2 linked regions of the Homo sapiens genome follow. The protein of the gene in region 2 interacts with the protein of the main gene of each other region in a biochemical or structural test. Each region holds a gene or a part of one and is shown on either strand. Other genes may lie near its edges. The genes, in order: ANXA1 and CDH13.

What was found.
Region 1: the proteins of CDH13 (region 2) and ANXA1 interact in a test that uses a peptide from one of them, tested with the Homo sapiens proteins (one large-scale study listed by BioGRID).

What each region holds. Positions count from the first base shown.
Region 1 is NC_000009.12:73,161,824-73,165,653, reverse strand, and holds part of ANXA1 (annexin A1), read right to left. Parts: intron 2,873-3,830; coding exon 2,793-2,872; intron 2,179-2,792; coding exon 2,122-2,178; intron 539-2,121; coding exon 445-538; intron 1-444. UniProt on the Homo sapiens protein: Plays important roles in the innate immune response as effector of glucocorticoid-mediated responses and regulator of the inflammatory process. Has anti-inflammatory activity.
Region 2 is NC_000016.10:83,781,277-83,785,106, forward strand, and holds part of CDH13 (cadherin-13 isoform 1 preproprotein), read left to right. Parts: intron 1-1,977; coding exon 1,978-2,196; intron 2,197-3,830.

The sequences.
Region 1 (3,830 bases), on a different chromosome or scaffold from region 2:
GCTAAATCTTGCACTCAAAGGCCAGGACTTTTTCTGAGTTTTGTCTTGTTGTTGTTTTTCCAAAGCACCTACATATTTCTTTCTTCATTTAGCTCTGAGGGTTTTTTGTTTTTTTTTTTTTGTTTTTCTTCATTCTAATTTCATTTGTTCTGTTATGCATGTCTTTTCCCACACATATTCCAAATCTTTTAGGGGAGTAAAAGCAGTGAAAATAACAAAATTATGTTCCACATGCCCAAGTCACAAAATGTATTAAATATGATAAAGTAGCGGCTGTACAAAATTGGACAAATTGACAAATAACAATGGGTCAGGAACACTGTATCTGTTTGATACAGGAGTGATATTGAAAAAGGGTTCTGTTTTTACTTTCTCTTATTTGTCATCAAAAAAGAAAATTGCATCTTCCATAAACAGATTCCAGAAAAAGAAATTTATTGTTACCTCTGCGAAGTTGTGGATAGCTTCTGGTGGTAAGGATGGTATTGAACACGTTTACGTCTGTCCCCTTTCTCCTTTCTCCTGCTTCATACAAGGCCTGTCAAGAAACACAAAAGTAAACACTTCACTATCTGCTGAAATGATATCTGCACAATAATGTTAGACCTTGTCAAAGATTATATAGGCAATCGCTTTGTGCCCAATACAATCAGAGTAGTCAACAATAAGATTGCAAGTTCTTTAAAGATAGGGACCTTATTTTGTTTGTCAAATATCTTCCACAGTTTCTCTCAAGGTGCCTTGTAAACACTAGAGTCTGAATATATGTTTGCAGAATAAATGTTTGCTGAACTAAATTGCTTTAAGATTATGCTCTATAGTAAGACAACTCCAAGGGGATCTCTAAAGATTTTTTACTCTGTGTTGTTCAAAGTAATTATCAGCAAATGTTACTTATAAATCAATAATTCAACCGTAACCTGGACCTTGCATTTTGATGTTAGAATTTCTGTATTCAAATTCTGACTCTGCAATTTCAAAGCTGCATAATCTTAGACAAATAGATCAACCTTACTAAATGACAGATTTTTTTCTTTTATATATGAAAAATATAATCCCTGCCCTATTGTCACAAGCGGTCTTTATTAACTTTGAAATGTTGACTACCATCATTCTCTTGGGTCACACTAATCCATGTAACCTCCATAAATATATATTAAGAACCCTGATAGTCTTAAAATGGAAAGCAAATTCAGAAATGTCAAAAGCAAATAAGAATTTTTTATTATGGGCAATTATTCAAATGCTAACTCTTGTTCCTTAATATGCTTGAACAATTTCTATTAAAATGATAAAACCTTCAATGTATGTAAAAATTATTTTGCATTTTTCAAGCAAATTGATCTGATATGTATGCATTTGTTGAACAAAAAGTTCATGAGTGCCTATTATGTACATGATAATGTACTGGTATAGCAGAAGTGGATGGGGGTGCACAAAGAAATCTCTATCCTTAGTGAAGCACTGTAATGAATTCTCTAGAGAATACTGTTCCATGAGAAGGCATAATGCAAATATTAGTTGTTTGTTTGTTTTAAATGGAAATTCCAGGCTTTAAAATGATATGATTTTTCTTATGTTGCCAGTGGTTTGGCATATAAATAATCAGCAATGTCACTGAAACTAAATAAAACAATATGTTAGAAAGCATATATTATTATAATTTATCCTATACTCTTGTTATATCATTGCAGTAATATTTTGACAATATAAATTGACATCTATAAACCATTCCAAAGTTCTCTGTTAAAAATAACGTTAAATATGCTTACTCTTTCCATTGCACATAATAAAAAAATTACATTTCCCCTTCTTATACCTAGTACAACGAAAGGTCAGAGTTTTTTTTAACAAACAATTCTTGGGAATGACAAATCAAATTTGTATTGTCCTTCTTCAGTTCTCTCTGGTTTTACGAATAATGAGAGATATTGAAAACTTACAAAGACTACTTTTTTGTGTGTGGGGGCTACAGAAAGACATGCCTCATTCAGGAAATGAACATTAAGAAGCCATTGGTCTCTCAGAAGATCTTAGATTTGCTTTCACAGGGGATCATGTGGTAGCCCCACTTAAGGTAGGAAGATGAACTGCAGCAGTATTTTGTAAGCACTTCCTTACCCTGGCATCTGAATCAGCCAAGTCTTCATTCACACCAAAGTCCTCAGATCGGTCACCCTGAAAGAAATCCCATTCTATTGTAAGCTCTTCTCTAGCATGTAATTGCATGATTTACTTAATTATCTTAAACTCAGATAAATAATATTTTTTGAGAAAAAGGTATTCTATTACTCATTTCTAGAAGGAGCTCAGATACAAGATTTTACTTGCGATGGTTTTAGATGTTCTTCCCCTCCAAACCTCATGTTGAAATTTGATCCCCAGTGTTAAAGGTGGGGCCTAGAGGGAGGTATTTGGGTCCTGGGGCTGATCTCTCATGAAGAGATTAATGCCGTCACTGGGAATGAGTTCTTGCTCATGAGAACCACGAGAGCTGGTTGTTAACGAGGCTGGCACCTCCCCATTCTCTCTCTTGCTTCCTTTCTTGCCATGTGGTCTCTGCACACACCAGCTCCCTTTCCTCTTCTGTCAGGAGTGGAAGCAGCCTGAGGCTCTCACCAGACATAGATACCCAAACTTGAATTTGTTAGCCATCAGAATCCTGAGCCAAATAAACCTTTTTATCTTTAAAAATTACCTAGCCTCAGATATTCCCTTATAGCAACACAAAATGGACTAAGAAATTAGTCTTTATAAAACAAGAGGCATTTCCTAAAGTATCTGAGTTGTACCTTAGCAAGAGAAAGCAAAGCGTTCCGAAAATCTCCAGATGTGTCTGAGGTTATGTCTTTGGCCAGATCTCTCTTCAGTTCTGAGAAAAAAGAAAAATAGATTTTATAGTAAACCAGTGATGAATAATAATAAGAATATCTGACATCTCTAAGTTGGTTGAAAATTCACAGTGCCACAGTGTTCAATGACTTATGGAACATGTTGCAAAATATTATCATTTTTAAATAAGAAGAGAAAAATTAAAGCAGGTAAATTTTTGGATCATTGAATTTATTTCATATGAAGCAATGGGAGCAATTTAGATAATACTGTGATTGAAAACTCACAGTCATAAAGCTTTCGTTAAGAATAAATTGTATAGGTATACATTAGTAATTAATTCTGAAATACAACATGGCAGAATTTAAGCAATAGAATGAATAAAATAATTGTTTAAAAGAACAAAATGAGGTACTTGCTTGAATGCAAATTATTTATTTAGTTTAAAAACTATAAATGTCTTATAAGTAATGCAGTTTGATGATTTATGTGTGTGTAAACACTTCTGCTTAACTACATAAAATAATACTGTAATAGGAAAAAATAATTGAATTTATAATTGACTAGTGCTATGGTTTTCATATTGTTTGTTTGGCCCTGCCAAGTCTCATGTTGCAATTTATTCTCCACTGTTGAAGGTGGGGCCTGTTGGGAGATGTTTGGATGATGGGGGCAGATCCCTCATGAATGGCTCGGAGTGAGTTCTCATTCATAGTTTCTTTAAGAACTGGCTGTTGAAAAGAGCCTGGCACCTCCTTTTCTCTCTCTCCCTCTCTGCACACATCTGCTTCTGTCTGCTTTCTGCCATGAGTAGAAGTAGTATGAGGCCCTCATCAAAAGCAGACGCTGGTCCCATACTACTTGTACAGTATTTCCTTTCTTTTTACATTACTTGGTCTCAGATATTTCTTTATAGCAACACAAACGGACTAAAACAACTTGAAACTGGGCAATGTAATAAACTATCACTGGCCTATATCTTGGCCATATGAAAAATA
Region 2 (3,830 bases):
TGTAAACTAACTACCAAGTTCACCTTGTCTTCCAATAAAGTAAAAGAAAAAAGAAAAAGAAAGACATTAGACACTATGTCTTCAATAATATACTTATCCTGCTGTTGACCCCGTCAGGGTTCCCACTTCTTATGTCAGTGGTAGAACTTTTGAGGGAGACAGAGAATTACGCATTTCATTAGGTTTTGCAAATGTATTGTACAATTGTGCATAACATTTTCTATTTAAAAATCTCATATCTATTGTTATAGCCCTATCTCATATCTCATTTTTTTAGTGCCTTTTGCTTGTTATTGATTCTATTTGCCTGTTTGTCTATTTTATTGCTTTTTAAATAATGAATTCTGTTATACTGATTATTTTTAATTAAAACAGACCTTCTCTTGTTTGAGGGGTTAGTGTTTTATTTGCTAGTTTTTATGGCTATAGCCTATTTGAATAATCATCTCCAGTTCTTTCCAATTGGAACTTTCTCATTCAAGAGTTTCTTTTTTGGGGGCGTGCAGAGGGGGGTGAGCATCAGGATAAATAGCCAGTGCATGTGGGGCTTAATACCTAGGTGATGGGATGATTTGTGCAGCAAATCACCATGGCACATGTTTACCTATGTAACAAACCTGCACATCCTGCTCATGTACCCCGGAACTTCAATTAAAAAAAAAAAGAAGAAAAAAAAAAAGATTGTATCCTCTACTAAAGGAAGATGGGAAAATGCTGTTTGATTTAATCTGCCATCTCACTAGGTGAGCATCACATTAGTCATTGCTGCTCCTGTCACCTTCTGGTAATGATCATGCTTCATGTATTTTTATTTCCCTGTCATTACTCTCTTGTTTTTTCTCCTGGTTTTACCTAATAGATAAATGCCTTCTAAATGATTTTGTTGTCTCACAGTTTTTTTTTCTGAATATTTAGCCCTGTTTATTCCCAGAAAGGGGCACTTAAAAATACATATGACCCTAATCATGTGAGTGACTTTATCTCAAGGCTAAAGAATAGGCCAGCTGGTGCAGCCACTGCCAAGTGTCACCCAGGGGCCTGGGTGATGGTGGCTATTGCCACCGCACATGACATCAGGGAAGTGGAGGGGAAGCTTAAAGATCCAGTCTCTATGTTGCGGGTTCCCACCCAAATGTAGAGCTGTGGACAGAGGATTGATCAAAAAAAACAAAAACAAGGCTGGACTCAGTGGCTCACACCTGTAATCCCAGCATTTTGGGAGGCCGAGGCAGGCAGATCACCTGAGGTCAGGAGTTTGAGACCAGCATGGCCAATATGGTGAAACCCCATCAGTACTAAATATACAAAAATTAGCTGGGCATGGTAGTGTGTGCCTGTAATCCCAGCTACTCGGGAGGCTAAGGCAGGAGAATCATTTGAACCCAGGATGCGGAGGTTGCAATGAGCCAAGATTGCACCACTGCACTCCAGGCTGGGCAACAGAGTGAGACCCTGTCTCGAAAAAAAAAAAAAAAAAACTAAAGACAAAAAATGTAGGCTATAGAACCCATCTCCATGATAACACATTAGGGTCCTGCCCACATTGAGAGCAGGTGGATTTTCACCTTAGCTTTCTAGATGTGGAACGCAGTCTTTGTCAAGATGGCTTTTTCGTGTAATAAATTTGCAGGGAGGAGTTCTTGGTAATCAATCATCTTCATGAAAGGAGCTCTCCTTGAAACTGATTATAATCGCGCCGAGGCACAGAACTCTGGTGATGGAAACACTCTGTCTCTGTGTTGTTCATTACAGGAGCCAGCAGCCATGTGTGGCTTCTGGGCACTTGGAATGTGGCAGGTGCCACTGAGGATCTGAACTGGTATTTTCACTTGATGTTAATGAATTTAAATGTAAGCATTCGCACAATTATAAATGAAAATGCAATGCCTGTTTGGTGTGACTTTCATCACCAAAACCTCACTCTTTTATTGGAAAAAGTCTCATCCACTCTCACCAGAACCCTCCTTGCCTTTACAGATACACACGCCCTGGTAAGCCTTCTTCAAAATCTGAACAAAGCAAACTACAACCTGCCCATCATGGTGACAGATTCAGGGAAACCACCCATGACGAATATCACAGATCTCAGGGTACAAGTGTGCTCCTGCAGGAATTCCAAAGTGGACTGCAACGCGGCAGGGGCCCTGCGCTTCAGCCTGCCCTCAGTCCTGCTCCTCAGCCTCTTCAGCTTAGCTTGTAAGTTGACCTAACTCCAGTGCATGCACAAACAGGAAATTGTAACTTCACTGGGTTCGTGAAGCCAGCATTTTCCCATATACCTTTCCAAGAAGATGTTTCCCAGAAGAATCATTCATCTTTAGTGTATGTCTGTATGATAGAACATGTTATATGTAAAAGTGCTCCCACTGATGTTTAAAGGCATCTTAACAATCCCTGCCAGCCAGTCTGAGGGATTGTGCAAAGGTGTTCATTGCTAGCCTGCAAACTAGGTGGTAAGCAAAACTTCCTACAGCTGCCACTCAACTTGAGCTAATGAAAATGCGCCCAGATTAGTTAACTAGTCTATCAGAGGCCTGTTTCTCTCTACATTATGCAGAATAATCTTTTGCAAGGTTAAAACAGATATTATGAGACTTTCTGAGAATAGTCGTGAGAATTTATGGATGGAGGGTGGGCTGCAGGGAAAATGATAAATGCATAATTTACACTGTTTTTTCACTGGCTAGTAATAATGACTATAATATCATGAAACATTGTTTTTAACAAATGAATTATTATGCCAAGTAGTATAGATGTGAGGATAAAATTAATAAATACATGTCTCAGATATTCCTTATTTATGAAATACTAGTCCAATGTTAACTTTAGCCGTTATTCATATATAACTGTTACCATCCAAAAGCCTTTTGGGCCTTGCAATTTACCTTTTGAGAACGTATCGGTGTAATTGTGAATTAGGAAGTTGGGAAATTGACAGAAAAAGAAAACAGAAGGTTTTTTATCCTACTGACAGTGGTGAGCTGCCAGGAAATCACATAGTACAACATTGGACATTCACGTATATAAAGCTCTGTGCAAGACCAGAGTCCTGTGAGTAGAAGGAAAAATGAAGGGCCAGGCACGGTGGCTCACACCTATAATCCCACCACTTTGGGAGGTCGAGGTGGGTGGATCATCTGAGATCAGGAGTTCAAGACCAGTCTGGCCAACATGGTGAAACCTTGTGTCTACTAAAAATACAAAAATTAGCCAGCCATGGTGGCACATGCCTGTAGTCCCAGCTACTCGGGAGGCTGAGGCAGCAGAATCACTTGAACCCGGGAGGCGGAGGTTGCAGTGAGCCAAGATCATGCCATTGATCTCCAACCTGGGTGACAGAGCAAGGCTCTGTCTCAAAAAAAAAAAAAAAAAGGAAACAAGAAGCCATTATAGCATTTCACTGGCCCTTCAGACTGGGCATTTCTGAAAGCGAACATATCATCTTCCCCTCCTGACCTGCCCCTCTGCCTGACTTGTCTCTGATGACTGTACCACCACCATCATCATCACCATCATCTCCATGTCTCCTTCCTGGTCTTCCCACTGCAAAGCCCAACAGAGTCTAAGGGTCCAACACTTTCCATCCATCCCTGCCTCCACCCTCCTGTCTCAGGTACTAATGTCACTTAACCTCGATTATCTCACTGGCTTTCTAACTTTATCTTCTGCAAAGAGAGAGAGAAAATAGAAATCAAGAGGCCACCCCTCGGAGGCTTCTCCTGAGTCTTTTCTGTAAAGCAGAGACAATTTCAGATGAAGGGTTAGAGATGGGAGTGGGGACTGAGAAGAAATTAGGAAACCTTGTCAAAGCACAGATAATTCGGCTGTAC